2 separate regions of the Homo sapiens genome follow, and region 2 is linked to region 1. Evidence: fine-mapped expression QTL. A gene starts in region 1. The other region holds a variant in brackets. All regions are shown on one strand. Distances are from middle to middle.

Region 1 (16,843 bases):
CAGGTGAAATACCCCAAAAATGCTTTGCTGGTGGGCAGAATTTCCAACCACCAAATTGGAAGTTCCTTAAAGCCTGGAAACACTTTCCATTTCAGCTTTCACAGCTCCTAGGACATAATGACGTAACTGTGCACTACACAAATTACTAACATCAACATTATCATATCTGTTTTGGCAACTGAGTCAGTCTTGCAAACCTTTAGTTTAAAGGCACATTAAGTTACACTCCACAACCAAAACAAAGTGAGGAGGACAGGAGCAGATGATTCCTTGATTCCCCCAAAACAGGAAAGAAAAGTGCTTGCCCACTTTATCCTAAGTGAAGGTTTTTATTGGCATAATCCTACCACCTACCATAACTCCATATTTGCTCACTGGACAAGGGCCCATTATTTAGAAATAAAGTTTTCAACAACCTTATCTTTGAAGCATCTATAGAGGCCCCTAAGTCATCATCCCATTTCCTGTATTCTGCATCTGAATTATTATGCGCTATTTGTCTCTAATTAAGGGAGATAATTTTATATTTCACATCTTTAGGAGGATGTCAGACTAATCAAAATCCCTAAAACAAAAACCATAGACTTTTCCTGAGTATAGTCCTAACCACACACAGGCTTTCCTATTTAAGGATGCCACGAAGTTAACAGAACAGATAAATGGAAGAATCAGATGAAAAAGAATGAATAAAGAGTTCTTCACATACGAAGCAGAATGCTTACCAGGTATTTCCATTTTTGCTGATAATAAACTACTTGACACAGGATCCAGAGGCTAAAGACATTCACAGGAGTGCAATTAATCAGGAATTAGGATGTTAAGACATTAGGAAATGATTCAGTGTCCTTAAGAGGCATACAAAAAACTATTTGAGTAACTTGAGATATATATTTTATAATTTTGAGCATATCCCAGGCCAATCAAAAGTCACTCTCTAATGGGACAGGAGCAAACACGTATCAAGGCCTGCACTCTTATCCTCAGGTTACTCCCTAGATCTGCCTCCACCTTTATCCTCCCTATCCTGTGCCACAGGAGGAGCCCCTGCAGGCTGAGGCCTTGGGGGCCACTGTGAAGAGATGGAAGGGCTACAAGGTAGGAAGAAGGGCTGAGGTTCTCTCTCTGATTCTTCATGACCTCCAGGCAGGTCCAGCTCTCACAAATGGCAATGAAGTAACTCCACTTTCCCCTCCAGCTGCCCCCTACTTCTGATCTCAGCATCTCAACATCCTTTGTTGATTCCCTTAAACTTGCCCATACCCCTCTAAGTAATTCATTAAAGTCTGTTCATTTCAGCCAATGGGGTTGGTTCCCGTTTCCTGCAAGGACCCTGATACAAGAACCTTCCTAATGTCGGGCATTTCACATCATATAAAATTTCTCAACCTCAAAAGGTAGGTCTTATTGTCATCTCCCATTTTACATGAGGATGCTGAGTCTCCAAGAGGGTAGAGTACCAGCTGGCAGTCACAAAGGGAAGTTTGCTGGCAGAACTGGAATTGCACCCAGGTCAGTCTGACATCTAAGCCTTTAAAAAGCCTTAAAAATGTGAAAGGGAAAAAACACACAAAGCTTCCAAACTCGCAAGCCACAACGTAGCCTCAAACGACCTTATTTATGGTTTGGGGATTTTCCTTGGGCCTAAAATAAGCTACCTGGGGCACTGCCTTTTAAGTGCTTCTTCCACCAAGGGTCATCCACACTCACTCCTGCTGGAGGGTGGTCAGACTGACCTAAGAGCTAAGAGATCTCAGGTGCTCCTGGCCATGGCAAACATTTCTCCTTCGGTTTATCCCAGAAGTCTCTCCCTCCCTCCCTCCCTCCCTCCCTCCCAGTTTTAAACATTCCTAAGGCTCTTTTGTTCCTTTTTATGAATTAAAACCAGAATTACCTTTATAGGAAAGTAGGGGATGCAATTGAAAGACATTAAAAACATTATTCTAGCACCTCCCAGCCATAACTTGCCATGGTCCTTTAGCCATACAAAAAGCCTTCCTGGAGTCTTTCTAGCTGTGTAGAAGAGCTTAGAAGAGAAAATGCAATTAAAATACCTTCTGATAGGGAGTGGAGAGGTAAGTACAAAACAAACTCCCCTTAAGGAAATTCAGCTATGAGTTTTATTTAATTTCAGAACTAAAGAATTTGCTATTATGTCCGCCTCTGCCTGGGTCCCTGGGTCTATCTCATCCTCACCAGAAACTAAAGAGTAATTTACAAAAGCACAAATGCTTTGGCACCGAAACCCTTCCCAAGTTTCTGACTTTCTGTATTCTGCAACTGATGAGAACGCAATGGTCACATCAGGTGGAGTTCTCAGTCAGGTCCTCAGAGTGAGCCAGGTATGAGGGTGGCTCAGTAAACAGGACCCGAATAAGGCAAATGTCCAGGTCTCACTTTCTCATTGCTGAAGGGGTGTGCGCAAAGGGCAGCAGGTGTGCTCTTGTTAAAAGGAAAGGAAAAGGAGCACTGGTGAGAGGAAGGGGAAGAAAACCAGGCAAAAAAGCATGAAACAAAACAGGAGCGCAGTGGGTCCTCCCCCAGCATGCCCTGCCCAATTCTATTTAAATCAACATTTACTGATTGGGTCACTACTAAGTATCCCGCAGATCTAGCCTGCAGCACCTGAAGAGACAAGGAAATGAGTAAGACGGGCTTCATCTTCAGGAAGGTTTCTTGCCAGGAATCACTGTTGTTGCCATTTTTAATTTTAATGGTTGTAGATAATTCCTGGACAGTTCAAATAACTTCACTGGGGCCCCTCTCCTCCCCCTAACCTGTCCTACTCAGAAGCTCCAGCCCCAGGCATATGAGCCAACCGAACCCTGGGAAAACCAAAGTGTCCTTGTGTGTCCCGCATCACACACGGTACAAAATAACTGTCACCCCTGAACAAGCCTCGCCTCAGAAGTCTAAAACCCAGGTCCTGCATTCAAAATCTATAGACTACCGTCTACAGATTCATCGCGCTTGTTTTTTAAGTAGGGTCATCTAAATTAAAAACAATAACGACTTGAGGACACTGATGAAAGAAACACTGGTTTCATGTATCAGACTACTTCAGAACTTGATTACAGGAAACGAGGCAATCCCAAACTTAAAGAAAAAAAAGTTCAGTAGAACTTGCCGCGCAGGCTGTACCAATATTTTTTCACACTTACAAGGAGAAAAACACTAACACCAACTCAAGAAGGGAAAACACACACACACACACACACACACACACACACACAAAAACCAACTGTCTAGTGTGTGGCTGTAAAATACGCCATGGAGGCGGAGGGACGGTGGCTAACACTTTCGCCCGCCCCGTGCACGCGATCGCTGGGGAGCTGGGGTCGCTGCGCTCCCGGCCTGCAGTTACCTGGTCCAGCGGGATGCCCAGGAGCTCGCTGAGCGGGTGCAGGTAGGTGGAGCCCGTGGTGCGGTAGGAAAGGCTGGACGGCTGCGGCTCTGCTGCCATCCTGCATCTTCGGGAGGTGGCTGCCCCTGTCCCAGCCCGCAACACCCCCTGCTCGGCGTCCTCCCGCCCGGGTGCTCTTGGGTGGTTGCCCCGAGAGGCGCACGGCCGCCTGGTTCGCGGGGGAGCGAACGGGAGGCCGGGGAATGCGAACCGGCGCAAACTCTCGAGGCGCAAACTCTCGAGGCGCAAACTTGGCTTTGGCGCTGGCGCTGCAGCCACGGGCGCCGTAGGAGGGCCGGGCCCAAGGCGCCCCGCTTCCCGCTCCCTTCCTCTCCGCGCCCATTGGCCCGGCCGCTCGGGACGGCCCCGAGAGGAGGGAAGGAGGGAGGAAAAGTGGGGACTCCGAGCCCGGCCCCCAAGCGCCGCCCGGCCCGCCCAGCCTGGCCTGCACCGAGGCCGACCGGGAGAGGGAAAGCGACGCCAGCGGGCGCCGCCGCCTGGCCCTGCAGCTGGAGGCGGGACGCGCCTTTCCTCCTCCCGGGCTGACCGTCCTAGCCCCCCGCCAGACAAAACGACCTCACCCAGCGGGCGCCTTCCACTAGAGAGCACCACCCACCCCGCCCCACCCTGTTTTGGTTTCGCCGCCGCAGTCGAAGCGGCTGAGTGGCTGCGTTTCCCTTTCAAGCCGTAGAGGGTTCCTCTGCCGGTGGCTGGAAGCTGGAGCGCCGCAGCCACCAGACTCCCTACTTCCTTTACCCTCCTCTGCGCTAGGCATAGTTTCCTACACCCTGATCTGACATGTTCGGTGTCACACAAGCAAATACAGGGGACTGCTAGCTTCGGGTCACTTCCGTCTCTGTGGAGTGAGAGTTATTTCACCTCTGTAAGAAACGGTGTTTACTGTCATACTATGTGCATTCTGATAAGTCATTTGCATGCCACGGGTCCTCAAAAAGGGTGCCTTGCTCCTTAACTTGTCTGCCCCCGAACACCCACACATCAATGTTACTTGGAAAACTTTTCCAAGTTATTGCTAGGTTCTGAGAAACATAAAAATCTTGAAGATCCTTTTCAGGAATCGCTAGCTGATGAAAAAGGGTTTCAGGAAGGTAATATTCTGGGCTGCTGGGTAGAAAACCAAAGAAAGTGAGCTCACGTGGCCCCCAGCCTCCGCTGGGTAAACCGGCATTCGATCAGACAGGCAATGACTTTCGGGGCCGACTTTATCAATGTGGCCTCCAGCTTCAAATTAAACCGAAGGCCTGTCAGGCACTGGCAACAACTTACTCTCCAAGACTCAGGCCTCACTCTTGCCTTCTTCAGGAGTTTTATCACCATCAAACTGCACTGAGCATTAAATTGCCAGGCCAGAGTTTCTCAACCTATGTCCCCTGTGGAGGAGGAAAAAAAAAAGTCTGTACCACCACTCCCACAAGCTAACCGAATGGAGATGTCACCACCAGATGATAATCTCTACCACTCACAAGCAAACCCACACTACAGACAGACAGACACATGCACACACGCACACAGGCATATACTTGAGGATCACTAGGCTAGATAGGTTCATTTAATATCATAGAGTCCTGGAAAATGACCAGCATTGGAGCAACATTCATCTTATCTGGAGCTAGATGACAGCTGAAGTGAGGTATATGAGAGCAGACGGAGCTTTGTTTAAAAGGAAAAAAAAATCAACACTCAGATATGAGTTGCTGGAAAACAGAAGTAGGTCAGTTTGGGAAGTATTTCTGGAGCAAGTGCCTCAGACCCTTTATAATTTTCACAAAGCTATGCCTTTTAGACTTCAAAGAATAGTCCTCACATAGGCCATATATATATATGTGTGTGTGTGTGCGTGTGTATATATATTTATTATAAATATATTAATTTATATAATCATATATAAATATATTTATATATGTAAAGTTTTATATGTACATATATTAGCCTTACACAGGTTTATATATACATATATTACACAGTTTTTATATATATATATAACACAGGTTTGATATATACATATGTATATATGTATATGTAAAATATATACATGTATTAGCCTTACACAGGTTTTTTTCTCCCTAACAAAACACAGTTCATAACCTAGTCTAAATTTTTCTTTTAAAAATGGCCGGGTGCGGTGGCTTATGCCTGTAATCCCAGCATTTTGGGAGGCCGAGGCGGGCAGATCACCTGAGGTCAGGAGTTCGAGACCAGCCTGGCCAACATGGTGAAACCCCATCTCTACCAAAAAACAAAAATTAGCCAGGTGTGGTGGCAGGCACCTGTAATCCCAGCTACTTGGGAAGCTGAGGCAGGAGAATCGCCTGAACCCAGGGGACGGAGGTTTCAGTGAGCAGAGATCACGCCACTGGACTCCAGTCTGGCTAACAGAGCAAGACTCCATCAAAAAAAAAAATAAAAATAAAAATGTAGTAACTATGGTTAGAGCTTATAAACAAAATGTCACAGAACTTAATAGTTCTTTTCTCTTGATACTGTAGTACAATTAATGCAAAAAAAAATACTACTGTTGGATAACTCAGAACCAAGAGAGTAGCTCTGTTACACTACAGATGAATGAAACACACTTTGAAGAAGTTGTTTATATGAGTCCAAGATGTATAACAGCGGCACCATGGACACATTGCTCTTTTCCTTCATCAGTATCTCTATTTCCATCCTCTGTCAACTGTAGGTTCACAATAATTATTATCATATGTTAGAAATCACTTTACAAAAGCTGTTTCATTTACCAGTGCTAATAATCCTGTGGTAGTTATAAGAATCTATTTTATAGATGTGAAACCTGGGGTTAAGGGAGCTTAAGTGACTTGGTTGTATTTAGGGAGGTTAAGTAAAATGTGTCTGTCTGATTCCAGAGCCTGGGCTCTTTATTCATTATGCATTGCCTCCTCTAAAACATAGTATTTTTCTCTTTATCAAGAGGCCAGCCCACACACCTGATACAACCTTGTCATTTTTGTAGACGAGACATTACATTTACCATTCAAAATGAGGTGGTAGGGGTGATGCCACAGACACGCTGTCTCTCCTGTTTTCTATTTGCAGTAGAGTGAGGCTTGATATCAAGGTCAGTTTTATGAATCTTCCCTATGGAACCATGCTCAGAATGTGACATTATCCAGGAGATCCACTGCACATCCTGAAGACAGGTCAAAAAATTAAAGCCAGGCACAAAAAAACCTGAAAAAGATTCTAGCATATTGGGAAGGGCTGCATGTTACCATGGACTAATAAAAACTCTACAAACTGCTGTAGAGTCACTAGGCTTTGGCAGAGTGCCTAAGGAGTTCCTAAAGAAGTGAAGTATTCTGATTTTAAGTAGATAAACTCCATGCCATTCTATCATGGATATTCAGAGGCACTTTCCATTCTTCCTACTTCACATACCAAATCAAATCAAACAACATAACTGATAATCAAAGAACAAAACTGAATTAAATACATCCTCAAAGTTTACAAAGGTATAATCCCTCAAGGAGATAAAACTCTAATGATACCTTCAGTCTATATTCAACCAAAAACAATCACCAATAAAACTAAATTTAAGCCATCTGAAATGATATAACCCATGTAAAAAAAGAATTACCATTTTAATAATACTACATATTAATGTAATGATACTATATATTCACAGAGCACACTCACTTATCCCCTTTGATCCTCCCAACAACTCTATGAAGTTGGAAGGGCAGGTGTTATTATCATTTGTATTATCATGTCATCTCAATTTTTATTCAAATGAATACTGTTTCTAATAAATTGCAGCTAGCTTATCCATCTAGTAAACAGCAAGTGTAGGGTTCAAACTTGGGTATTCTACTGTTCTTTTTAACTATACAGAAATCTTTTTATTATACTTTTTATTATACTAGGAGTATAATACTATTTTCCTTCAGGAAAATAGCAGAAATTGTTGCCTGCATAGGACATTAAATTCCAGGCTTAACATTTGAGAGCTGATCTGAAGAATGGTCAAAATTGACCCATGATAGGTATCACCATTGTTTTCTGAGCAGTTTCTTTAAGCATCATCCACAAAGCTTCAGGTAATTTATGTTTTTCAATCAATGATGTATTCCTTCATGTTTTAGCTCAACTGATGTGTGTTTGCTTGGAACATATATTGCAACCTGCCTACCCAACATATTTTCCAAGCTTGGGATCACAGTTAAACATTGTACATGTTCAGAAAATGAAGAAACTAATATAACTGAACATCTGCCAGATTTAGCTATGACTGCTATGTTATAGCATTTTTTGCTTAAGAATACTGTATTAGACCAGGAATTAACAGGTGCAGTGGCTCATGCCTGCAATTCTGACACTTTGGGAGGCCAAAGTAGGAAGATGTCCTGAGGCCAGGAGGCCAAGAACTCAGCCTTTAGAGCAAAACAACCGGGTATGAAAAACCAGTACTGCCTTTTACTAGTTTGGGGACTTTGAGCAAATCAATGAACTTCATGAAGGCCCAGCTTCCTCCTCTGTAAAATAGGAATAAGAATAATGATCCCTTGCAGCAGGTCTAAGAACTGGAGGAGAGATTTTGTTCAAAAAACATAAAAGAACTGAAGCTTACCCTTTCTGCACTAATGTTTCATTTTTGCCTTAGTTTTAGGCAAGGGAGATCTTTCTAAAATGCATTGCACGTGACCCTGAATACTAAAACAGAGTTAGTGATCTTAGCTTAATCATTACTGATGACTCAGGCATTATTGTGAACAAGAACCCATCCTGCAATACAGCAATGTCTTGAAGTCCACTGACACATCAAGAGTTTGTCCTTGCAGCCGGGCGTGGTAGCTCACGCCTGTAATCCTGGCACTTTGGGAGGCTGAGGTGGGCAGATCACCTGAGGTCAGGAGTTCGAGACCAGCCTGGCCAACATGGGGAAACCGTGTCTCTACTAAAAATACAAAAATTAGCCAGGCATGGTGGCACATGCCTGTAATCCCAGCTACTAGGGAGGCTGAGGCCAGAGAATCACTTGAACCCGGGAGGCGGAGGTTGTGGTGAGCCGAGATCGTGCCATTGCACTCCAGCCTGGACAAAAGTGAAACTGTCTCAAAAAAAGAAAAAAAAAAAAAAAGAGTTTGTCCTTGCTCTAAACTATGCCCAGAGAGGTACACTTTCTCAACTACTGTGTCTACTTTCTAGTTTTTCCATTTCCCCTTCTGCTCTTGTATTTCACTTGTCCCTGCCTTGCCTGCTACTTTGGTTCCCCTGTGAACTGGGGAGCTCTACGAATTGCCGTAGAGTCACTCGGCTTTGGCAGAGTGCCTAAGGAGCTCCTAAAAAAGTAAAGTATTTTTATTTTAAGCAGATAAACTCCAAGCCATTCTATCCTCCACGCCATTGTTTCAGAGGCACTTTCCATACCTCCTACTTCTTTGACTGTGTTCCAAATAGTTACTATTGCCAAAGTGTCCTATGAATAGCAAAGTGTGATTGAAGATAATGTTTGAGTACATAAAGACAGACAAAAACCTGTGCTACCCAGATTCCATGGTTGGCTGCAGTAAGAAAAAAGAGCAAGCTGGGGCTTTGCCTAATGCCCTGGAGCCGCTGGGTATTGGGAGGTGCTTGGCCCCACCCTCCCTGTCCTCTACCCTAACTCCACCTTGGGTGTTGTTGCTGAGGCCACTGTCACCTTAGGCTTCAGGGAGCTGCATAGTGTTAACCCCTCGACCCAAGACTTTATATTTGCCTTGGAGACCAATTGGAATCTCCCTCAACTCTTGTATTTTTCCCTTACTTTTCACTCTGTTCTGCGGCCCACTTCCCAGGGCCAATGATAGTACCAAGCACAACAATGTTTTGGAATGAATGGGTGGATAGTTTCCTGGCAATCAATGCAGCCAGCTGAACTCATGACTGTCTCTTCTCTTCTCACTTAAGTCCTCATGACCCAGCTTGTTGTTCTGAGTCTGTGTGGGCTTCCGTCAGCACATTAGACTGGCCAGCCCTAAATGCTGAGTGTACAGTGAAATGTTATTTATAGCACTAAAATAGGTATTTGCCCCTATTCATTAGGCTCTCTTCTTATACTCCTAATGTATCATTGCTGCAACTTTCATTTCATTTTTAAACACTTTTCCATCATTATTGATTGATCTCCTTGAGTATCCTGTAAAGTAAGTTTTGATGTTCACAGAGATCACAAAAAAATCTACTAATAAGCACTCATGTCAGTTTCAAAGAAGGGGCCATCAAACTTAGCTGACCACAGGATTTGTTTTGTGTACATCCTTTAGAAGAAACCTTCCCCAGATTACTGTTCGGGAAACAGTGCTTTTGCTTATGAAAATGGACTCAACGTTCAGCAAATATTTATTAAAGAACTATTATTTATAAACACTGTTCTAGGTGTTTGGGATACACATCAATTAACAAACAAAATCATTCCCATCACAGAGCCTACACTCTGCCAGGGAAAGACATCAATGAAAAACATTTAAAATAATATTATGATGTTAGATGATAATAAGTGCATAGAAAAACAGAAAAGCACAGCAGAGTAAATACTGCAGCCCATATGTTGCATTATTTAATAGGGTGGTCAAGATTGGCCTCATTGAGAAGGCCACATTTAATCAAAGACTGGAAGGAGGTGAAGGAGTTAACCAAATAGATTTCTAGGTAAAGCACATTCCAGAAAGAGGAACCATCTAGAGCAAAGGCCCTAAAACAGGAGCAGGCCTGGCAAAATGGAAAAACATTTGTCTGGCCAGTAAGGCTGGAGCAGAGTGACTGAGGAGAGAGAGAAAGGAAATGAACCCAAGAGGTATGGGGAGGCAGCCCACGGGAGATTGGGGCCATTGCAAATGGCTTGAGCTGTTCCTCTGATTGCTATGGGAGTTATTGCTGGGATATGAGCTGAGGATTATATATTATATCTGGTTTATATATATATATTTTAAATCACTCTGGCCACATGTTGAGAACAGACAGTGAGGAACACAAAGAGTGAAGCAAGGGAACCAATTAAGAGGCTATTTCAGGACTCCAGACAAGAAACTGGAGTGGGAGGAGTGGGGATGGTAACAGGGAAGAAGATGAGAAGTGATGAGCTTCTGGCTACAAATCTTGGATGATAATGTGTCTTGGTTCGTTTGGGCTGCTGTAACAAAATACCTTAGACTAGGCCGGTGAGGTGGCTCACGCCTGTAATCCCAGCACTTTGGGAGGCCGAGCCAGGTGGATCACTTGAGGTCAGGAGTTCGAGACCAGCCTGGCCAACATGGTGAAACCCCGTCTCTACTAAAAATACAAAATTAGCTGGGCATGGTGGTAGGTGCCTATAATCCCAGCTAATTTGGAGGCTGAGGCAGGAGAATCACTTGAGCCTGGGAGGCAGAGGTTGCAGTAAGCCAAGATCGTGCCACCGCACTCCAGCCTAGGCAACAGAATGAGACTCCATCTCAAAAGAGAAAAAAAATATATCTTAGACTAGGTAATTTATAAGCAGAAATTTATTGTTCACAGTTCCGGGGGCTGGAAAGTTCAAGATCAAGGTGCCAGTAGATTCAGTATCTAGTGAGGCATTGCTCTCAGCCTCAAAGAAGGCACCTTCTACCTGTGTCCCCACTTGTCAGGAGTGAACAAGTTCCCTTGGGGCTTTTTTATTTTTTAATTTTTATTATTACTATTTTTTTTTTGAAACAGGGTCTTGATCTTTCACCCAGTCTGGAGTGCAGTGGCACGAGCTCAGCTCACTGAAGCCTCCGCTTCGCCTCCTGGGTTCAAGTGATTCTCCTGCCTCAGCCTCCTGAGTAGCTGGGATTACAGGCACCTGCCACCACACCCGGCTAATTTTTGTACTTTTTTTTTTTTTTTTTTGAGATGGAGTTTCCCTCTTGTTGCCCAGGCTGGAGTACAATGGCAAGATCTCAGCTCACTGCAACCTCTGCCTTCCAGGTTCAAGTGATTCTCCTGCCTCAGCCTCCCGAGTAGCTGGGATTACAGGCATGTGCCACCACGCCCAGCTAATTTTGTATTTTTAGTAGAGACAGGGCTTCTCCATGTTGGTCAGGCTGGTCTTGAACTCCTGACCTCAGGTGATCTGCCCGCCTTGGCCTCCCAAAGTGTTGAGATTACAGGCGTGAGCCACCGTGCCCAGCCTCTGGCCGCTTTTATAAGGGCACTAATCTCATTCATGAGGCTGGAGCCTTTATGACCTAATCACCTCCCAAAAGCCCCATCTCTTAATACTACGGCATTGCAGATTATGTTTCAACATAACAATTTTGGGGGCATGCATTCAGACCAAAGCATAATGCCTATGTCCTACCACATTGGAGTTATTGCCAAAAATAGAACTAACCCTACCCACTTTGGACTCGTTTTATTGCTTTTTCTTTTTTTTCAACCTCTGCATGTAGCATTCAAACCTTTATTGCTTAGAGTCTTTTATTGCAAGAGAAGGCAGAGGGGAGCCAACTTAATCACTTACATGCTTTTGAGCATTATACTTTAAAAGTTATTTCCGTTAATATTAAACACAGTAAAGGAGAATTATCTCACTTTATACCTACCAATAATTCAAGACATTTTTCAGCATATTCATTTGCTAGCATCTTTGGTTAGCATATTTATTTATTAAGTTGAAGTTGACAGAGGCATATTTTGCATATTGCTTGTGCAGACACATATGTATCCTAGATCCCACCAAAGCCACTCTGTCTTGTGGAATTCAGATAAATTAACCCAAGCCAAAGATTGTATATTGTATGCAAAGTCCTATGCCAGCTGCAAGATTTTACCAATGCCTGGGCATTTCTCTCATCTAGACCCCTGTTCCTGGTCCTTCTGGGTCCTCACCTGCTTCTCTCTTTCCCTCCATCCACATTTAGCATCTGTGTGTGACCATATATTGAAGACGTAAAAGGACCAGGGAATCCATGTTGCAGACATTCAAAAGCCTTAACATTCCATAATGGATGTCACTATTTCTAAAAGATGCTTCGGCATCCCTTCTACTAGCAAATTTTGCACTTTCTCCTTTCTCTATAGGTGCAGCCCCAGCTAGGTTCCTTGGTTACTCCCTCCCGCCCTATTCTCCTCCCGACTCCCCTCTGCTTTCCTCTATACCTAAATTCTTTCATGTTTAATTTAAAACTACTAACCTATCTCTTTGCCTACCAAGCTGCTTAAAATCCAGCCCCTAAAGGAGCTTATTGTTTCCCTCCATAAACAAGACCATTCTGAAAGAAATTCTCCTACTAGTTGTGAACATTTTACATTTTCCTCCAATTCTCACACTGATAGAGCTCAGATCATATCCAACAAAGCATCTTGGCATTTGAGAAAATGACAGAGGCAGAAGGTCACTCTCACTTTCCCTTCACCTTTCTTTGCTGAAGCAGGTCATAAAACCTTCATTCAAGAGGTGCCCTCCCTGAAGCTGGGAGAAGACACAGGGACACAGAGAGGAATCTGAACGCACGTGCCTTGCTAAGCTCCCCCAGTTTATTTCCATTAGATCAGACGCCCTTTGACCAATCACACTTCCACAGGAGTATCCACTTCATCAAGCCTAAGCATAAAAACACACAGGTTTCCCTGTGTCTTTGGGTCTTTATTTCTTAAGGCTCCTGTGTCATGTGTAACTTACATTAAATAAATGCAGATGCTTTTCTCCTGTTGATCTGCCTTTTGTTATAAATGCCTCAGCCATGAACCTAGTAATGAGTGAGGAAAAGAAATCCTTCCTCCCCTACAATGCCTATAAACCGAAACTTCCTGGGCTACAGCGTTCAAATAACACTGCCCCATGAACTTTGTCGATTTTTTTAAACCTTATTTAGTGAGAGATATGTCATATGTATGTGTAATCATATATATAATTTAAACAAAAATAGACTATTAGTTTAATAGATGTAGTAGATTTTTTAAAACTTTAGTGAGAGATATATCATATGTATAATATATATAATTTAAACAAAAATAGTCTATTAATATCATAATATATATAATTTTTGTTTGTTTGTTTTTTTAGATGGAGTCTCACTCTGTTGCCCAGGGTGGAGTGTAGTGGCGTGATCTGGGCTCACTGAAACCTCCACCTCCTGGGTCAAGCAATTCTCCTGTCTCAGCCTCCTGAGTAGCTGGGATTACAGGTGCCTGCCACCATGCCCAGCTAGTTTTTGTATTTTTAGTAGAGACGGGGTTTCACCATATTGGTCAGGCTGGTCTCAAACTCCTGACCTCAGGTGATCCACCCGCCTTGCCTCCCAAAGTTCTGTAATTACAAGGCATGAGCCACTGTGCCCAACCAATTTTATATATATATAAATACATATAATATATATACACATATATAATTATATATAAAATTATATATATATAAAATAATTTAAAATAGCCTAATAGTCTATTAGCCTGGTGTGGTGGCACACACCTGTCGTCCCAGCTACTTGCAAAGCTGAGGCTGGAGGGATGCTTGAGCCCAAGAGCCCAGGAGTTTGAGGCTGCAGTGAGCCAAGATCATGCCATTGCACTCCAGCCTGGGCAACAGACCAAGACCCTGTCTTAAAAAAAAAAAAAAAAAAAAGTCTAATAAAACAGACACCCATTTTAAGAAGTAAAACATCAGAAATTCCATCCACAGTGTTCTTCAAGCCAAGCAAGCACCCCACCCCACCCGCCCCTACTGCCCCACGTACTCAAGGACTTTCTGAGGGCACATAGGCATCAACCATTAAAATGGTTGGTGTTAGGAATCTACTAGGAATTATTAGATACCTCAATTCCATATATACTTTTTCCTGCAACCGATTTGCCTGACGACTCCTGAGTTCACAATAGCTCTCCTTGCACTTGACCAAGGCATTCATTGTAAATCTCACAATAGAACAGGGGCCCTGGGTGAGAACCAGCTCAGCTCCAGATGATCCCTGTCTCCTGAGGGATTAAGTAAGGCCCCATAAACCTACAGGACATTCTGTGTCTCCCATTTTATACATACTCCTGTAAAGGGTCAAGCATGGTTTTTAGAATTGAGTATTTGGGGCCCTGTTAAGATGTTCTCAATTCAGACATATGATGGTGATAAGGACAAAGGCATGGGGGATGACCATGAAAACTTTCACCTCTTCCTTCCCCAGCCCATTTTCAAGAATGAGGAAGTGTCCTGGGAGAGAAAACAGAAAGAGAGGGGGTAAGAAATACTCAGCACTAAGTACTTGGGCTTTTATTTTCTGTATAAGTAGAAGAACTTCTTTTCAGCTATGCTCAGTACTTTCTTAGGATGTGTCATTTACCGGAAATAAAAACATCTTGATCAGCTGAAACAGAAAGGGTGATTTTGGTTTTTTTCAATGTAACTGGAATATTTTTGGGAACTGCCAAAATTTTCATGATAACTTTGGATAAAAATCCAAAGATAAAACTTGTATGGAATTTCTTTCAGCTTTGGTATGTGTTATTCAAGGTAGTAATTAAAACCTATTTTAGCAATTAAGAAATGTTTTGTAATTAAAGTGATTTTTCATTTTATTTCATCCTATAAAATGCTTACCATTTTCTATCTCTATGAATAAAAAAATTTTTAAATAAAGTAACCCCTAGTCCCTGCAGTTCTTACCAGTGTAAACTTTTATCTTTGTTAAAACCATTTTCTTACCATTTTCTACCTCCTATGAATAAAAAATTTTTAAATAAGGTAATCCCTAGTCCCTGCCGTTCTCACCAGTATAAACATTTATCTTTGTTAAAACCATAGAAAAAGCAAAATCATTATTCTTCTCATCAAGAGATGTATTTCCATTAAATTTTACTTTTTATGTTTAATGATTATCAATATTTATAATGTTTTTATGGATTTTTGATAAAATGTGTACTGATAATAATCATAAAGATAACTCAAAGAATTTTTATCCTAGAGCTTTCTAACTTCAGGAAATGAGATAAATGTTAAGAATTACAATTATGAGCATATTTTGTTTTGAATAAATACGATGGTGTTAACAGAAGACATTCAACCATAAAATGTATTATATTAGGATAAAAGTCTATGGAGGAATAGACTAGAAATAGGACTCAAGTAGAAAAGAAGAAGAATTACTTTTGTAATGCTAAAGAGCTTATTCATGAATGTTTTCCATTGTTGGATGGTATTAGTATCAACTTATAGTTTTAGATTCCATAGGATACTCTTAAAAGAGATACAAGGTTTATTTTAAAATTTATTTATGTATTTATTTTTAGAGACAGGGTCTTTCTCTGTCACCCAGGCTGGAATTGCAGGGGCCCAATCATAGCTAACTGCAGGCTCGAATTCCCAGGCTCAAGCAACCCTCCCACCTCAGACTCCTGAGTAGCTAGGACCACAGGTGCGTGCCACCACAACTGGCTACTTTTTTAATTTTTTTGTAGAGATGGGGATCTCACTATATTACCCAAACTGGGCTCAAACTCCTGGGCTCAGACAATCCTCTTACCTCGGTGTTGGGATTTACAGGCATGAGCCACTGCGCCCGGCCTATTTTATTTTTGAATGTCAATATTTGCAACATGCTAGAATTTACATTCTTTGCAACTATTGCAATTTATGATGAAAAATTTTAGATGTTGACTTTAAAATGTAGGAGCAAATTCATAGTTTTTCAAAATTCTTTAAGGGAGAAGTGAACAAAATGTTCGAAAGCCAGTGCCTTTATGAAACCTTAGATGCCCCTTCTCACTGTGTCACCATCTTCCTAAAGCAAAAATGATTCGAATTTTGTGTTATTTACTTTCTTCTTTTTGTAGCTTTATCTCATACGTACATATCTCTAGGCATATGTTGTTGGGTTTATCTGTTTTGACTTTTGTGTGACTCCTCTGTTACTTGTCGGTTTCTTTTTTCTTTTTACTCAATATTACATTTGTGAGAGTCATCCATACAAGATATGTTAAAATAGCTTAATCATTTTCACTGCTGTATAATATTCTTTTGAATAAACTATACCACAATTCATTTAACAATTATTTGGTCAATTGACATTTGAGTGGTTTCCAGATTTCTAGTTTTATTTTTTATTTTTCATTATTATTATTTTTAGAGTCAGAGTCTCACTCTGTCACCCAGGCTGGAATCATGGCTCACTGCAGCCTCAAACTCCTAGGCTCAAGCGATCCTCCCACCTCAGCCTCCTGAGTAGCTAGGACTATAGGTGCACACCACCACACCCAGCTGAGATTTTTAGTTTTAATGCTGTCATGAATATTCTTGACTCCTGGTAACCAAGTACAACAATTTTTCTATAGTATATACTTAGGAGTGAATATTTCTGGGTCATGGCCTGAATGCACATTCAACATTACAAAATAAGGCCAAATTGTTTTCCAAAGTGATTGTACCAGTTTAACCTACCTCTAGCAGTGTGTCAGACTACAGATGTCCCAGATTCTCACTAACACTTGGTATTGTCAGTC
Region 2 (16,843 bases), 120 kb before region 1:
AGAATAATGAACTATAAATTAACGTATGACTAATAAGAGTCCCAGAGAGGGAGAAGGGATAGCAAAAGGAGGAAACTTTCAAATAAATAATAAAAGAAAATTTCCCAGTACTGTGGAAACTTGACTTTGCATATTGCAAGGATCTACCGAATGTCCAGAATAGTAAATAAAGAATGACCCACACCAAGACATAAAGAAATATCAAAACATGACACATTTCTATAACTAAAAACTTCTGGAGCCAAAAATAAAAACAATCTACAATGGAGCAACTGATGGAGGTTTATTTTTCCTTAAACTTCTAAAGGAAAATGGCTTTCATCCATAAATTCTATACCCTATCAACCTCTTAATAAAGTTTTGAGTAGACTAGACATCATGTCTCATGCAATCTTTCTCCTGAACAATCTTTCTCTCTTACTCCAGTGGAGTAGCATCAGAAGAAAGATTGAAGTAAAAAAAAAATGGAGAAAACCAAGAAAGAGTTATGCAAAAGACTCCAAGAAACAGGGGATTCAATAGAGGAGAGTGGCAAAGGCAAGTCCCAGGTGGATGAAGATAAGCAGCCACCCAAGAGAGCAAGGAGTCTAGATTGAAGGAAAACAGAAGGCTTCAGGAAGGTATCTCTGGGGGGGTGGGGTGGTTAAAAGTGGAATTGATCAATATTCTGAAGATATTGACCATGTGAGAAATAATACTGAGAGACACTCATGAGATATATGAGATAGTTGGGAAGGATGACCAATAGGTATAAAGAAAACTGGGCAAATGATAGACAAGACAATTATTAATCTAGGCAAAATAGAAGTTGTTCAAGAAAGGAAATGTTATCATGACACACCACTTGGCTCCAGGGTGGACAATATTTACATAAGAACACAATGTAAATATTGAATCTTAGGAGAGTAGAGGAAGGTTAAGTGAATAGAGGTTTAAAGAGGTACAAAGAACCATAATAGGAAGTCAACGAAACGAATGAGGTCTAAAATGGGTAAATGAAAAAATGTCAGTAGGATGCTAAGTAGAAATATGGAGATGAAATAACTGAAGAAAGATATGCAGAGTTGAAGTTGGGTGCCTCTGGAAGGCAGGACTGGGGAAGGAGCAGGAGCAGAAAAGGGCAGAGCAGTGTGCAGGAAGAGCATTCCAAGCAAGAGGCTGCTAAGGTCACTGCAATCCCAGGTCAATTTACCAAGCACCTTTTTCAGACCCCAGGTTCCTCCAGGCAGAGATACCAATCCGTTAGTGTCACAGATGTGACACATGCATACATAATTACATAACTAATGACACAGATGTAACCAGAGAGGATGGAAGAAGTGATGCACCTGTAGTATTCCAGAAATTGTTAAAGACACATGTTTAGGTTTCATTATTTATATTAGGTTCGTGCAAAAGTAATTGTGGTTTTTGCCATTAAAAGTAATGGCAAAATTACTTTTTGCCACAATTTGATTGTGGATTCTGTGCTTATAAATTAATGCTGGTTGGTTTTCTTCCAATTGCCTTCAAATAATTTAATGTTTCTAAAGTTAAAATTATATGTTATTTATAGATACTATTGCTTACTAAACTGGTCTACCGGGATTTCTATTGTGTTAAATGTTCTCCTACATGTAAATTAGTGAGCAAAACATAAGTGTACTGCTCAGTTATCACAAAGTGAACACCTGTGAAAAACTATCTCGATCAAGAAAGAGTGCGCTAGCCCCCTAGAAGCACCTCTTCTGCCCACACCCAATCACTACACCTTCCTCTTCCTCAAAAGTAACTGTCATGACTTCTAATAATATACCTGAGTTTTTCTTGGTTTTTGGACTTTACATAAAATGGGGTCCTGTAATATGTATTTATTTGTCTGGATTTTTTGCTTTTTTCTTTTATATGTATTGTGGAAGTACTTTTGTATATAGACCTTGTATTTCATGATTTTGCTAAGCTCACTTATCAATTCTAATAACTTATCTGTATGTATTTCCTATAGGATTTCTATGTATAAAACTATAAAACTCTATTTAATAAAAAATCTCTTCCATTCCAACCCTTTTCTCCTGTATTTCTTTTTCTTGCCTTATTGCATTTACTAGTAATTCTAATACATGTTTTCTTGTCCCTAATTTCAAGGAAAAAGCTTTCAACTTTTCACTATCACATGTTGGTTGCTATAGGTTTTTGTGTGTTCATTAGATAAAAGAAGCTCCTTTCTATTGCTGACTTGCCAAGGATTTTAACATCTTGAGTAGATCTTGAATGTATCCAATTGCTTGTCATGTACCTATTAAAATGATCATTATAATATCTCTTCTTTATTCTGTGAGCATGCTATATACCAAACTGGCATTCCCAAAATCAACCAATCTGAGCAAGGTTTATTATCCTTTTGACATATTGCTCCATTCACTTCATTAATATTTTGTTCAGGGTTTCTGAGTAGGATTCACCTGTAGTTTTCTTATAATGTTTGTTATATTTTGTATCAAGGTTATTCAAACATTAGAGATTATCTTTGTTCTTTACTATTCTTTGAAAAAGTTGCAAAAGTTTAGCGTTACTTCTTTCTTAAATATTTGGAAGAATTCACCATTGAGACTCTGAGGCTAAAGTTTTCCTCGTGGGAAAGTTGGCAATTATAGATCCCATTTATTTAATAGTTATAAGATTATTCTGATTTTTATATTCCTTGTTGTGTCAGTTTTGGTCAGTTGTGACCTTTTAAAGAACATGTCAATTTCATCTAACTCATCAAACTTACTGTTTAAAGCTGTTCATGATATTCTTATAATCTTTTAAATTTGCATTTGAAAAGGATCCTGTTTGCATCAGGATCTATGGTATTGTCTCCTTTTTGATACCTGGTAATAGTTGTTTGTGTTTTCTATCTATTTTTCTTAAATCAGTATATCCAGGAGTTTATCAATTTTATTGCTCCTTTTTCAAGAATGAACTTTCAGTCTTACTGATCCTCTTTATTGACTGTTTTCTATTTCATTAACTTTTCCTCTTACCTTTATTCTCTCCTTTCTAACTTTTTGGGGAGTTTAATTTTCTTACGTGATGCTAACCTCTGAGATGAAAGTTTAGATCATTTATTTCCATACCTTGTTCTTTCCTAACATATAAATTTAAGGCTATAAATTTTAAGCATGACTTTAACAGTACCCCACCCATCTGGTTTAGTAGTAGTAGTAGCACCTTTGTCACTTTGAATCAATTATTTTAATCAATTATTTTAAAAATATTAGATCTACCTTTAATCACATTCCCTCATAAGCCTCTAAACTATTTTTTAAGTTATCTTCTTTTATTTTATCATTTTTTATTTTTTGAGACAGAGTGTCACTCTGTTGCCCAGGCTGGAGTGCAGTGGCACAATCTCGGCTCACGGCAACCTCCGTCTCCTGGGTTCAAGTGATTCTCCTGCCTCAGATTCCCAAGTAGCTGGGACTACAGGTGCGTGTCACCACACCCAGCTAATTTTTTGTATTTTTAGTAGAGACAGGGTTTCACCGTGTTAGCCAGGATGGTGTCCATCTCATGACCTCGTGATCCGCCTGCCTTGGCCTCCCAAAGTGCTGGGATTATAGGCGTGAGCCACTGTGCCCAGCCTTATCTTCATATATTAATTTGACAGAGGAGGGGGAAACTTTCAACTTCCCATTGTATAGAGGACAGGTGAGAAGGATGCGGCACACCTGCCTGTTTGGTCCCACATTCAAGCTTCATTCTTCCCACCCAAATTCCTCAGCAAGACTTCTCAGTTGATTACTCCCTTCTCTGAGCCTCTGTAGTATTTGACGTCCGCTTTACTCATTTTGACACTTGACAATAAGCCTTCTTACTGTGCTACTTTTTCAGGTGTGCACGGATTTTCAATCAACCTATTGTGATAAGAAGAGGTACTAGATCCTTACAAATATTTTGCGTCTCCGTTAGCATGTTGCATGGTGCTAGATGTGTGAATCACAGTCGGTAATCACGTAAGACACAGGCAGAGCAGGTGTATGGGTAGAGGGGACAGGGCTAGCGTGCCCTGCCCACATACTCTCAACACTCATGTTTCCTGTGCAGGCAGCAGCTTCTTACTGCAATCCTCTACAACTGCGCCAAGGGGCTCTCTCCAACTGCTGAGCATGCTTTTCCTACCTCCAGGACATTCTATGATGCTGGGAGTTGTGTCAGTGACAAACGAGAGTTGGTCCATGAGCACCCCAGCCTCCTCTTCTCTCCAGTGGAATGAATGAGGTGTGCTCTGTGCAGTCTCACAGAGTTACCTGGTGTGCTGAGCCCCAGAGCCCACAGTGGTCATCTGCTAATCAATGCACTCTGCATTAGCATCCGTCCCTTCCCTGCCTCACCTCCCCATTCCAAATGCTTCCTGAGATCACTTCCCAAACAAACTACTTTTACTTAAATTCAATCCTCATCTCAGGGTCTACATATGGGGAAATAACCCAAGACTGTCTGTCGGCCTTTCCTTCTCTCTAAAGGGATTATCCATCATTCGGAGATTAACAAAGCTTAAAAAACAATTTTTTTCTGTTTCTTACTTTTTCTGCTTCCCAATTTTATTTACATGACCAAAACAAACAAATTTTAAATACAAGTTATAAGTTATTCAAGTAGCACAAGAAGAATTTTTGGCATAATTATTTATTTATTTATTTATTTATTTTGAGATGGAGTCTCGCTGTGTCATGCAGGCTGGAGTGCAGTGGCATGATCTTGGCTCACTGCAACCTCCATCTCCCAGGTTCAAGTGATTCTCCTGCCTCAGGCTCCCGAGTAGCTGGGATTACAGGTATGTGCCACCATACCTGGCTAATTTTTGTATTTTTTGTAGAGATGGGGTTTCACCATGTTGGCCAGGCTGGTCTCCTGGCCCCAAGTGATCCGTCTGCCTCGGTCTCCCAAAGTGCTGTTACTAAAGGTGTGAGGCACCGTGCCCTGCCAATATAATTCTTAAAATGAACTTGAGCAGTTTGGCGACGCCTGACCTAAGTCCTAGGGGAAAGCCCAGGGTTTCGATTCTGTTGCCATCACTTACTGTGGGTGTGTCCATGGGAAACTCACTCAAGTTATTCAGGCCTCAGGTTCCTAATTTTAAAACGGATAGTAACATCTGGTTCCACTAACTTTAGATTGTTGGTTTGGGAAACAAAGGAAATAATGTAAGAGAAAGCACTTTATAAACTGAATTACAAACAAAACGTGGGATGAAATAGAGTGTCACCTCTTTTCATGAGGTTCTGGAACTAGTCTTGCAGTGTTTAGAAAACTAATCACAAGAAAGAGAAAAAATGAAGGGAGGAAGGAAAGAATAGACTTGCCTAAAAGATAGGTTGTTTCGAAATATTTTCCCCCACGATGGTAAGACATAAACTCAATCTGTGAATTTTATCCAAGTCCCAGGTTTTGTTGAGAAACAAGTGAGCTGGGAAGGAAGAACTAGAAAGATTAATTCACTGCATTGCTTGGCCTAGTAACCATGGGCCAGAAGAGAACCTATGCCTACTTCACACTTCCGTGTGTGAACAAGGCATGTTATTTATTGTGTCTGCTAGGCACAGAGTGAAGACTTCAATATTTGCCAGAATGTTTGTGCTTCTTTCTAAATTCAGAAACTTGCCTAAATGGCTGGACGCAGTGGCTCAGGCCTGTAATCCCTGCACTTTGGGAGACTGAGGTGGGCAGATCACCTGAGGTCAGGAGTTCGAGACTACCCTGGCCAACATGGCAAAACCCTGTCTCTACAAAAAATACAAAAATTAGCTGGTTGTGGTGGCGCACGCCTGTAATCCCAGCTACTTCGGAGGCTGAGGCAGGAGAACTGCTTGAACCCAGGAGGTGGAGGTTGCAGTGAGCTGAGATCACATCACTGGCACTCTAGCCTGGGCGACAGAGTGAGACTCCATCCTTCCGCTCCCCTACCTCCCCGCCCGCAAAAAAAAACTTGCCTAACTGCTCCAACCATAAAACTGAAATGTCAGTGGTGGAAGATAACATATAAAACACCTGTATTTTCCTTTAAGTCATTCAGAACTTATTACCTAGGAAACAAAATACTACAAAGTTATAGGCCAAAAAATAAGTGTTGAGAAGCTCACTACTGGAAATAAAGAGGTTCAGAAGAGTGTGAAGAAAAACATCAAATTATGGAATGTTAGAAGCAGAAGCAACCATGCTGGTCAGCTTATTTAATACCCACCTTTTACACACAAGAAACTTGATCTCCAAAGAACTTATATGACCCCATATCACAATGACCTATTTCCACTATATCATCATTTGAGAATTCTGTCAGCTTCATAACTCATATTATGGTTTAACTCATTTAATCCCCACAATTCTGAAGAGTAATTATAATTGCTAGCATTCCTCCTAAGAAGAAAAGTATTCAGAGCCGGTTGCTCACTTTTTTTATGGTCACACAGCATGTAGAGGCAGAAATTTGCCTTAAATGAAGCTATTTTGCCTTCAGCATCTCTGCTCCTTGGAGTTTACACACCCTCCTGTGTGCTTTTTTCCTACAGTGGAGAGAGGACAGGGCAGGGAAACAATTCATTATTTGACCCTATAGCAATAGGGTCATTAAAATCTGACCTTTACTCCGAAAGACTATCATTTACTGTTCAAAAGAAACACCAGACAGTGACTCACGCCTGTAATCCCAGCACTTTGGGAGGCTGAGGCGGGCTGATCACGAGGTCAGGAGTTCGAGACCAGCCCGGCCAATACAGTGAAACCCTGTCTCTACTAAAAAATACAAAAATTAGCCTGGCATGGTGGCACACACCTGTAGTCCCAGCTACTCAGGAGGCTGAGGCAGGAGAATCGCTTGAACCCAGGAAGCGGAGGTTGCAGTGAGCCGAGATCATACCACTGCACTCCAGCCTGGGCGACAGAGCAAGACTCCATCTCCAAAACAAACAAACAAAAAAAAACCAGAGGTTAAAGTGGCAATTGCTAAGCATTCTAAGCATTCAGAGTGTGAATGAACAAATGAATGAATGAACAAATGAATGCTTGACTTCCTAATTCAACATGGAAATCATCAGAAATTACCTCACATGGCCACAAGATGTCACTACTTCACACCACTTCAGAAAAATCACATTCTAAGTCAAGAATTTTAGATCCTTTGGACAGAGGGAATTTCTTGTTCCTCATTGAGAAAGGCTTAGTTATTTTGCATGTGTTTTGGGACTGCTTCCTTGTTTTCTCTTAAGTCTATCTACCTCAAGAGATACTGCAAAACGTAGACTTTAAATGAAGGCTGAGGCTGAATGCTCTTAAGCTGGGAAGCATTAATCAAGAAGTCAATCACTCACCTGTTTCCAGGGACTTCTCAGCAAAAACAAAGGCAGGATTGACACTTTGACTACTCTGTTACCCTGCTCTGTTTGCAAAGCTTTCTCTCAGCACTTTCTTGTAATTCTACCTCTCTCATTGCTTCAGATTCACAAAAAAACAGTGATTCAGCAACATCCAAAAGGCAGCACACTGGGGTTTTAAATAGTGCTTTCTTCTTGAAATGTTTGCCTCACACCTTCCTTACCGGGAATAAGGTTCAAATTACTGCAGTGAGTTTACATAAGCTATTAATGCATTTAATTATTCAGTTCAGGGCTGTCCTGGGCTTATTGGTATTTTTTTTTAAGTATCATGAGACTCCAGTTTGCAAATCATCATTTCAAGTTCTTAAAAGTTTTTATACACCAAAATAATGTTAACCAAGCTTGATATTTCAACTTCAGCTATATTTAACATTGATAAAATAAACTTCAAATTTATTTTGATGGAAATATTTTATTCATGAGATCAACTGATGCTTGTAGATTGATTTTTAACAGTCCTAGAAAGTTTTAGAGTTTGATGTATTTTATTGGCATTCTCTATTAGATTCCCCTTCCTAACATTTCTTATTGAAATTGTTGATAAATAATCTTCATCAATTAGCCATTCAAGTTTGATGGGGCTGAGAAGGAAGGAAGCTCATTCATAAAAAGAAGCTGCTTGGTGGGTTTGGGGATCATTCAACTTTATAGGCCAAAAAAGCTGTTTTGCCTTAAAGGTCCATATTTCACACCACTTCAGAAAAATCCCATTCCAAGTCAAGAATTTTAGATCCTTTGGACAGAGGGAATTTCTTGTTCATCATTGAGAAAGGCTTAGTTATTTTGCATACGTTTTGGGACCACTTCCTTGTTTTCTCTTAAATCTACCTCAAGAGATACCGCAAAAAATGTAGACTTTAAATGAAGCCTGAGGCTGAATGCTCTAAAGCTGGGAAGAATTAATCAAGAATTTCTGGTGATTTCCATGTTGAATTAGGAAGTCGAGCATTCATTTATTTGTTCATTCATTCATTCACACTCTGAATGCTTAGAATGCTCAGCAATCGCCACCTTAACTTCTTAGGAAGAACAAATACATCCCATTTACTGAGAGGCTAAACAAACAGTCACTCGCCAGGCAAAGGGTTAAACGGTTCAGAGAAGGAGGCCTCAATCTCCACATTGTGATGGACTATACAATATGTAAAAGTCATTTCTTACTAGCAATAGTTTAAAGAGTTAAGGTTTGCAAGTGATTTTCCACTTAAAATTAAATAAATTACCTAACCGCATTCAAGTCAACCCCCATTACAACTTCACTGGATTTCATTCCTTGCTATGCTCATTAGAGCAGGAGAGAAAGAGACGGGAGATTTCATGGCATGTGGACATTCTCATCCTGTAAAGTTAAATGGAAAATTAAAATTCCAAACTCTATAGGAAGCATTAGACTTTTCCACAGATAAATGCCGATACCAAAGAACAACCAGAAATATAAAACAACAAAACAAAACAAACCTTCAACACAAAAACTAGAAATAAAATGCCAACAGGGGCTGGGATTATAGATGCCTTATTCCTTTTCTGTATTTTCAAATTTTTCTAAAAGGAATATATTTTTTAAATAAAGCAGCAGAAACCAAATGCCCAACCATTAGGGGACTGCTTTTCAAAATTATAGCACATTTATTTACACACTATTATGCAGCCATCAAAAACAACTTTTAGGAAGTTTCTGCAATAATATGGAGAAATGCTTATGATGTAAAACATTTGCAACAACTTGAAAAGCTCGATGCAGGGCACAGAATTTCTCTGAAAGGCCACATAAGAAGATAACACTGGCTGCATCCAGATGATGAAAACAGAGAGCTGAAGGTAGGCCTAGCAGGGAGAATTACTTTTTTTTGAGACAAGTCCCACTCTGTCACCCAGGCTGGAGTGCAATGGCACAAACTCGGCTCACTGCAACCTCCGACTCCCAGGTTCAAGTAATTCTCCTGCCTCAGCCTGCTGAGTAGCTGGGATTATAGGCGTGCAACACCATGCCCGGCTAATTTTTGTATTTTTTAGTAGAGACGTGGTTTCATCATGTTGGTCAGGCTGGTCTTGAACTCCTGACCTCATTATCCACCCACCTCAGCCTTCCAAAGCGCTGGGAGTACAGGAATGAGCCACCGCACCTGGCCTGAGAATTACATTTCTCTATACATTTTTTCTCACTGATCCAATTGGCAAAACATAAGAGTCTGCTAATACCAAGTACTGATGAGAATGTGGACAAAGAAAAACTGTTACACATTTTGGGGAAAGAAAAAACGCATACAACCAGCTGGAGAACAAGAGCACCCGAGCAAGCTGAGAGTGCATTTCTTTACACTAAGATCCTGCAATGCCACTGCATGATGTCCACCCTGTCACCAGAGAAATACAAAAGAACGTTCACCATAGCACAGTTTATTACCACAGAAACAGCAAGAACCACTAAAGGTCTCTATGGGTTGAACTGTATCCTTCCTGAATTCATATGTTGAAGTCCTAACCCCCAGGACTTCAGAATGTGAATGGATACAAGGTCTCTGAAAAGGTAAATAAGTTAAAATGAGGTCATTAGGGTGGGCTTTAATCCAATATGACTGGTGACCTTATAAGTAGAGGAGATGGTCAAGCATGGTGGCTCATGCCTGTAATCCCAGCACTTTGGGAGGCCAAGGCAGGCGGATCGCCTAAGGTCAGGAGTTTGAGACCAGCCTAGCCAACATGGCAAAACCTGTCTCTACTAAAAATACAAAAAAATTAGCCGGATATGGTAGCGGGCGCCTGTAATCCCAGTTGCCTGGAAGGCTGAGGCAGGAGAATCCCTTGAACCCAGGAGGTGAGGTTGCAGTGAGCCAAGATTGCACCACTTCACTGCAGCCTGGGTGACAGAGCGAGACTCCGTCTCAAAAAAAAAAAAAAAAAAAAAAAAGGAGATTAGGACAAGACACACAGAGGGAAGACCATGTGAGGACACAGTAGGGAGACAGCAGCCACAAGCCAAGAGGAGAGGCCTCAGAAGAAACCAAACTTGCTGACACCTTGATCTCAGACTTCTAACCTCCAGAACCATGAGACAATGTTTATGTTGTTTAAGCCATGCGGCTTGTGGTACTTGGTTATGGCAGGGCTAGCCAGTTCATCGGGAGGAGCACAGATGAATACATTCTCAGTTATACAGACAATGAGACACTACATAGTCTCTAACAGAACCACTAACTACCAAAAGCTGTAAAAGACGGAAGTCCAGTATGGACTCCCAGGAAATGGAAAACTCGTAGGAACTTCGTTCCAGCATGCTGGACTTACCCCACCCGAATCCTAGAGGCCCAGAGAACTTGATTGAGCACCACCATCAAGGGAAAGCCTGGACTTTAAGGGACTAGGAAATAGAGAGCCATAGGCTCAATTTCACTAGGGCCATTTCTAGTGCTGGTCACTAAATGCAGGGGCCAGAACCCCAAACTCAACCCACCTATCCGAGATGGCCCCTCTTCATTATCCCAGAGAAAATCCTGCCATGGCTAATGGAATTCATTCATTCCCTCATTTGTTCAACTAACATTGATCCAATACCCTTTTGAGTCAGAGACTTGCCAGGTATGAAGAAATGAGTTGTCAGGCACCTGGCAATCTGGTTGGGGAAGGACAAATGACATCAAGCTAATCACAACACAAGGTGTTATCAGGGATCTATGAGCAGAAGCTAGAAGTGAGAAGGACTTCACAGGAAAAATAGCAACTTGTACGGCACATTTTCTCTGTCTAAAAGGCCTTCTGCCCTTTTTGCTTTGGGAAGTGCCTATTCAAAAAATGTTGTTCTTTTAGGCAGCAGAACTTAAAGTTACAAAGGCACCAAGTCACAAACGCTGGCTGCATATGGAACAGCTGCCTGCCTGAAAGGAGGGCCAGGAACCCAGGCTGGTGAGGGTGGAAGGGAAGGGCATGGGTTTTATGGTGTAGACAGCAGGAGCTGGCAGGAGTTTTGATGAAGAGGAGCATCCTGAAGGGCTCACCAGGAAGAGTCCCAGGCAGCAGCATGGAGGACTGGAGGGAAAAGGTTACCAGTGACCATGCAGAAAACTTGTCCCAGCATCTGGTGGCTTTTCCAGACCAGCGGACACAGAGACAGTTGCAACCTGGGACTGCAGCTGGAAATGCTGAAAGGCCATTTTGCCCATCAAGCAGACAATAGACCGAAAGAAAGCCAGGGATGAATGGACGATTGATTGTAGCCAGCAACTGCTTAGACAGTGTAAATCGTAATGCCAAAAGTGCATATCCCCTATGAATTTTCTTTGTTCGAGAACAAAAGGGGCCATTGGATCCTGAGGGCCATGTGGACACAGAAAGGCTTTTTTCTAGAAAATTGTTCCCCGTCTGCCTCCACAGGTTGGATCAGCAGTTACAATAAAACTGTCTGTGAGGCTGCGTAGGATCGGAGGCCAACCCACACTCGGAGAGTGCAGACTTATAGGTCCCCAGGAAACACCCACCTCACCTGGACACTCATTTTCAGGCCTAAGAAGGGTGTTCCCAGCTGAGAAAATGTCCCAGGAAAGATAGAGGGCTCCTCTGAGACCCACCGTGCTGGGTGTTTTTTAGAGAAAGCATGGCTATTTGTGGGAAGTACACCCTAGTGGGTCAAGAGAAGGTGCTTCCACCCTCATCTCTGCTACAGAAGTGATCTGTGATGCCTGGGGCAAGACATTAAACCACCCACCCACCCTGAGCCTCAGTTTCCTCAAATGTAAAAAATAAGATGAAGCCAGTACTTCCCAAACCTGGCTGTACATCAGAATTTGTGGGAAGCTCGTTAAGAATACTGATTCCCAGGCATGGCTTCAGACCAACTGAATCAGAATATCTGGGGAGTGGGACCCAGGAGTCTGTTTGTAATCAAAAATCTGTGAGGGCATCTGTTTCCTGCGGATCCCTAAGGTCTACCGCTTTATAAGATGCCCCTGGATTTAGAAATTCAAATAATGGAGAACATAGCTCCATTCCCCAACCCCATGGCTAGTATTTTGTATTTCTCGAGATTGATTCTTGAGGGAGGCTTAGGTTACTGCTGGGCATATTTTAGTCTGTTCTCTTATCTCCTCCCAATGCCAGCCTAAACTAGAAACAGGTTTAGTTCTCTTTTTAAAGATGAAATGTGTCTCCAGCTATGGTAGTAGAGGGGAACATTACGTAAGAATCCAGTAATTCTCCACCTTC[C/T]TATTCTTAAAGGTCTCCCTGACCAGGCCACCCACTGGGAATTTCCTTTCTCCTCAGGCCCCAATTTTCTGCCATCTCTTTATTCCACTGAGTAGTCTCTGCCCAATTTCCCCAAAGTTTACATATACCAGCTACTTAAAATCTAGGCCAAACTTCGCATATCTCAAAATGCATTAAAAGAACCATGTTAAACAAAAGGTCTTTTAGGAACACAAAGCAATCACAGATGTTCCAAAAGGCCTTCTTTTTGATGTAAACAATTTAGCTAGGCTCTCACCTCCCCATTCCACCAGGATATAATCACCATTAACCACTGGGAAGAAGGTTATGGTAACACGACCATTATCCCACGTTGATATCAATCACACCGTTCCCCTGAGAAAAGGGAATGGTGACCATCAGCAACTTAACAGCAAATCTATCTCCCCACTCCTTGCGTGTTTAGCAAGCTCCCCAAGTGACAAGGCCAGCTGGTCAGCATTTGGAAACCACTAGACCAGGTGAGTGCTGGAGTTACTTCCAGCTTTAAAACTCCGTTTCTTTGAAAATGAACGTGCTCTGCACCAGGTGGTGGGATGGACCCTGGAGTCAGCCAAACCAGGATTCCAACCTCAGCTCCTCCACTAACTAGCTGGATGACTGTCGTCAAGTTACTGGCTACTTGCTTTCCACATTTGCAAAAGAGAATACTGCCAAGTTCACAGACTGTGTTAGGAATGCATGTGAAAGTAGCTGCCAATAACTTAGTTTTCTTTGTCTTAGCACAGAGTAAGTAGCGTCAGATAATTTTAGCGCATTAGACAAAGCTCACATGGGCTGCACCTTCTCTAAGCAAATACCTTTCCTCTGGAGCTTCATGAAGTCTTTCACTAAGTCTGCAAACTTCACTAAAGATCCCTCCGGAGGGGGATTGGCCACCCTACTACCCCTACGGGGAACCATGAGAGATCAGTCTGCTCCACTGGGTACCTGCTGCATTGATTGGCACTGACATGTTGCAAGCTCAATACCCAATTTCAGCACAAGGGCAAGCTTAACTTCACCTGGACATGAGGCTGGAGAGCAGTGATGCTGCTGTCCTGGGTAACTCTCAACACTGTAAAATGAGATCACTCTAAGAAAACAAGAATCAGGCAATCCATCACTTTATAATTTCTGAATGCTGGAGTTCTCCTGGGCACTCCTACTGTGCACTCCTCCGGATCATGTCTTTCTGGGCATATCGTGAACTCTCCAAGAGCAGAGAATGGGGGACTTCAGCATCTTTTACCTGCAGTGCCTCACAGAGTACCAGGCCCACACCAGACATGACACATTTGATAAATAAGTGAATGCATTAATTAATGGAAGGGTGGACCAGAGGGGTTCAGACTATGTAAACTGGCTGCCTGAGTAATTATATCACGTAATGTACTTTCAGAATTCCCTGAAAACACAAGCCTTTATTTCGGAAACTAATTCTGAAAAGCAGAAATGATGTTTCCCAGTGCAAAAGTGACTCAGTCAAAACTGTCAAGGGCAATGATGCATTAAACTAATTCATTCAATCCCTCATTCATTCAACAAACACTTACTGAATCTTCATTACAGGACAGGCACTATGCCAAATCCCAGAGACAAGAAGAGAAAAAAGATGTGGTCCCTGGAGGAGCCAGGCATCAATCACTTTCTTTAAGCTTCCTGTGTGGTTCCAATGTGCAGTGGGAGTTGAAAAGGACCGTCTGGGAGCCTGCAGAGTAATGGAGGGACACACGCCGCACCAGTTCTGGGGGTCACCTGCTAACTCCTCTGTTCTTCTTCCAGTTTTCTTCTCCCGCCTTTTTCTCTCTTAGCCAGTCAAAATCTCAGACTGAATTATTTATTGCTTTTTGCAACCACTGAATAATATCTGAATAATATTCTTGCTCCATATAGTTACCTTCAAAGTACAAAAAAAAAAAACAACTGCAATATTTTAGATTTGGCTTTTTCAAAAACAAAACCAGAAAGTGTATTTATTTTCAACTGAAAGCTCACATTCCAATAAGTATTTATGAACTGCATCTTATATTTAGGACAACTTGGAAATCTAAGGTAATAAAAACAGTCCCAACCTTCCGTCTAAATGTTGGTCCTCAGTTGAAATCTTTTTCTATGGGTAAGTGGTTTTCAGAAGAAAAAGGATGCTAATCAGTCTCCTATGTGTTGTTCTTTTTATACAGAATAAAGCCTCATGTTTGTGTCCCAGGGCCTAACACCAAGTCTGACATATAGCATCCATAAGCTCAACTCCTAGAGGTTTGACTTCTCCTCATCCCATAAGGAGTAATCAATTCTGGGCAGTCACTAGTGGGACCAATGGCCCCAGCTTGCCCAGGACTGAGGGCTTGAGAGAGTCCTTGGCAAACCAGGGCAGCTGGTCACCAAAGCAGACACCTCTGCTCTCATTACCAAGTTCTTCTTTCAGACATGAGGATACTTACATTACATACAGTGAAACCTGATCATCAATCACATTGTAAATTCAAAGACTTCACTGTAATATGATTATTCCACATACTCCACACCAATGGTAATATTTACCATTTTTGCTAGTTTGCAAGATGTACATTTTTCTTGGTCTCGTACCTCAAACTATTCTTGGTGGAGACAAACTCTGACAGATTTTAGATACCTACAACCCCCTTCCCCTACCCACTATCTAAGATTCTTCCTGGGACAGCGAAGTAGGGTTGCCCCAAGATTTCCTTGTTAAAGTGGGGTGAGACTCATGCACTAGCTCACATCTACTACTTCTTAACTTCCACTGTCCCAAATAAGGACTAAAGTTTGGGTTCTAGTACTCTCCCCCAGCACCAGGACTGTTTACATGCTGTAGAGGAACAGGCACATCACATTCACATTTCACTATCCTAAGAGAAGCAGCAGTAGGACACCTTATGGACCTGTGTCTCTATTGACACAGACAAAAAGCAATTATTCCCATCAGAAACATTTCTTTTATATGGGAACATACTGTTTATTCAATAAGAAATTAATTTTTTATCGTTGGATTTGAATAAATTTTCTTCTCCCAAGCAATCTGATTGGCAGTACACCATTGCAGCATATACTTTATTATTATCATCATTATTATTTTCCACAACATTTAATACCAAGTTTCCTTCTCTCACATAGAATATTACCCAATAGAAGTCTCCAAAAGGGGCCATAGCACATTCATAACAAAGATAGAAAAGAAAACTTTCAATGTCTGCTTTCCAATATGATGATTCAACTAAAACAAAGCTGAATTTCTCAGCTATGAAACTGAAAAAATGAAAATCAGCCCATGTGTACATCACGGCCAGCCATGATCATTAACACCTCCATGAAATGAGGGAGAAAAGAGAGAAACAACTGCTTCTTCTTACCAAACTTCTATATAACTTCAAATTACTTTAAAAAAATTTCCTAAAAGGCATTCTGCTGCCTTTCTGAGGCATGAACATTTGGGTGTCTTCTCAAGACCAACCCCGGGCAAGCAGGTGGCGCCTGTGAAATGGAAAACATTCGGAAAACAGCAGCCCCTCTTCAGCTCCATGTACAGGAGACTTTCTGATTTCCAATCTTGGCTCAGGTCAGAAGAAAAAGGGGAAAGGTTACATTCCTGGAAAGAAAATACAGCCTATTTGAGGGCATGCCTGACTTTCAGTCCATGCACTAGTCCTCTTGGCTCGTAGAGTTTTCAGTGCCCTGAAACCATGATCCCTCTGCCTCCATGGTCCTCTGAGTGTAGTTATTATGTCTGCAAACCAGTAATGTCACAAGTCAAAGGGTCTGGGGCTTCCCAGGGAACCACTATGACTGAGTATATTCTGATTTGAGAAACCTGTGACAAGTCTTCTCAGCACTCGCCTTCTAATTTTTGGAGCCGATGCCTGGGTTCCCAGCATCCAGGTCACAGTAGCTGGAAATCATGCAGGAAGGGCAAAAAGCCAGCAGCCCAGAATGGACTGTCTCTGCAGCTCTGGCACATTCTCTACACATCGCCACACCACTCAAATGTCCTATAAAATATCAAAACCAATAACCTGGACATGGCCGATTAATCTGTACAAAAAGGCTTTATAAAAATACTCCCGGCCGGGCGCGGTGGCTCACGCCTGTAATCCCAGCACTTTGGGAGGCCGAGGCGGGCGGATCACGAGGTCAGGAGATCGAGACCATCCCGGCTAAAACGGTGAAACCCCGTCTCTACTAAAAATACAAAAAATTAGCCGGGCGTAGTGGCG

Evidence for each region. PIP is the estimated chance that this variant, and not a neighbour inherited with it, causes the effect.
Region 2: its variant is fine-mapped to the expression of MBOAT1 in whole blood (TOPMed, PIP 0.95).

The regions. Positions count from the first base shown.
Region 1 is chr6:20,208,775-20,225,617 of GRCh38, forward strand. MBOAT1 (membrane bound glycerophospholipid O-acyltransferase 1) reads right to left here and starts at 3,695. Exons shown (of 13, transcript NM_001080480.3): 1 at 3,362-3,695. The coding sequence starts at 3,460. RefSeq lists a silencer at 3,501-4,040 and an enhancer at 4,223-4,723.
Region 2 is chr6:20,085,142-20,101,984 of GRCh38, forward strand. MBOAT1 (membrane bound glycerophospholipid O-acyltransferase 1) reads right to left here. Exons shown (of 13, transcript NM_001080480.3): 13 at 14,543-16,843. Among named protein-coding and RNA genes, the nearest start is that of MBOAT1, 120 kb to the right of the region's middle. RefSeq lists an enhancer at 7,052-7,555. The variant C/T (reference allele first, on the strand shown) is at 12,591.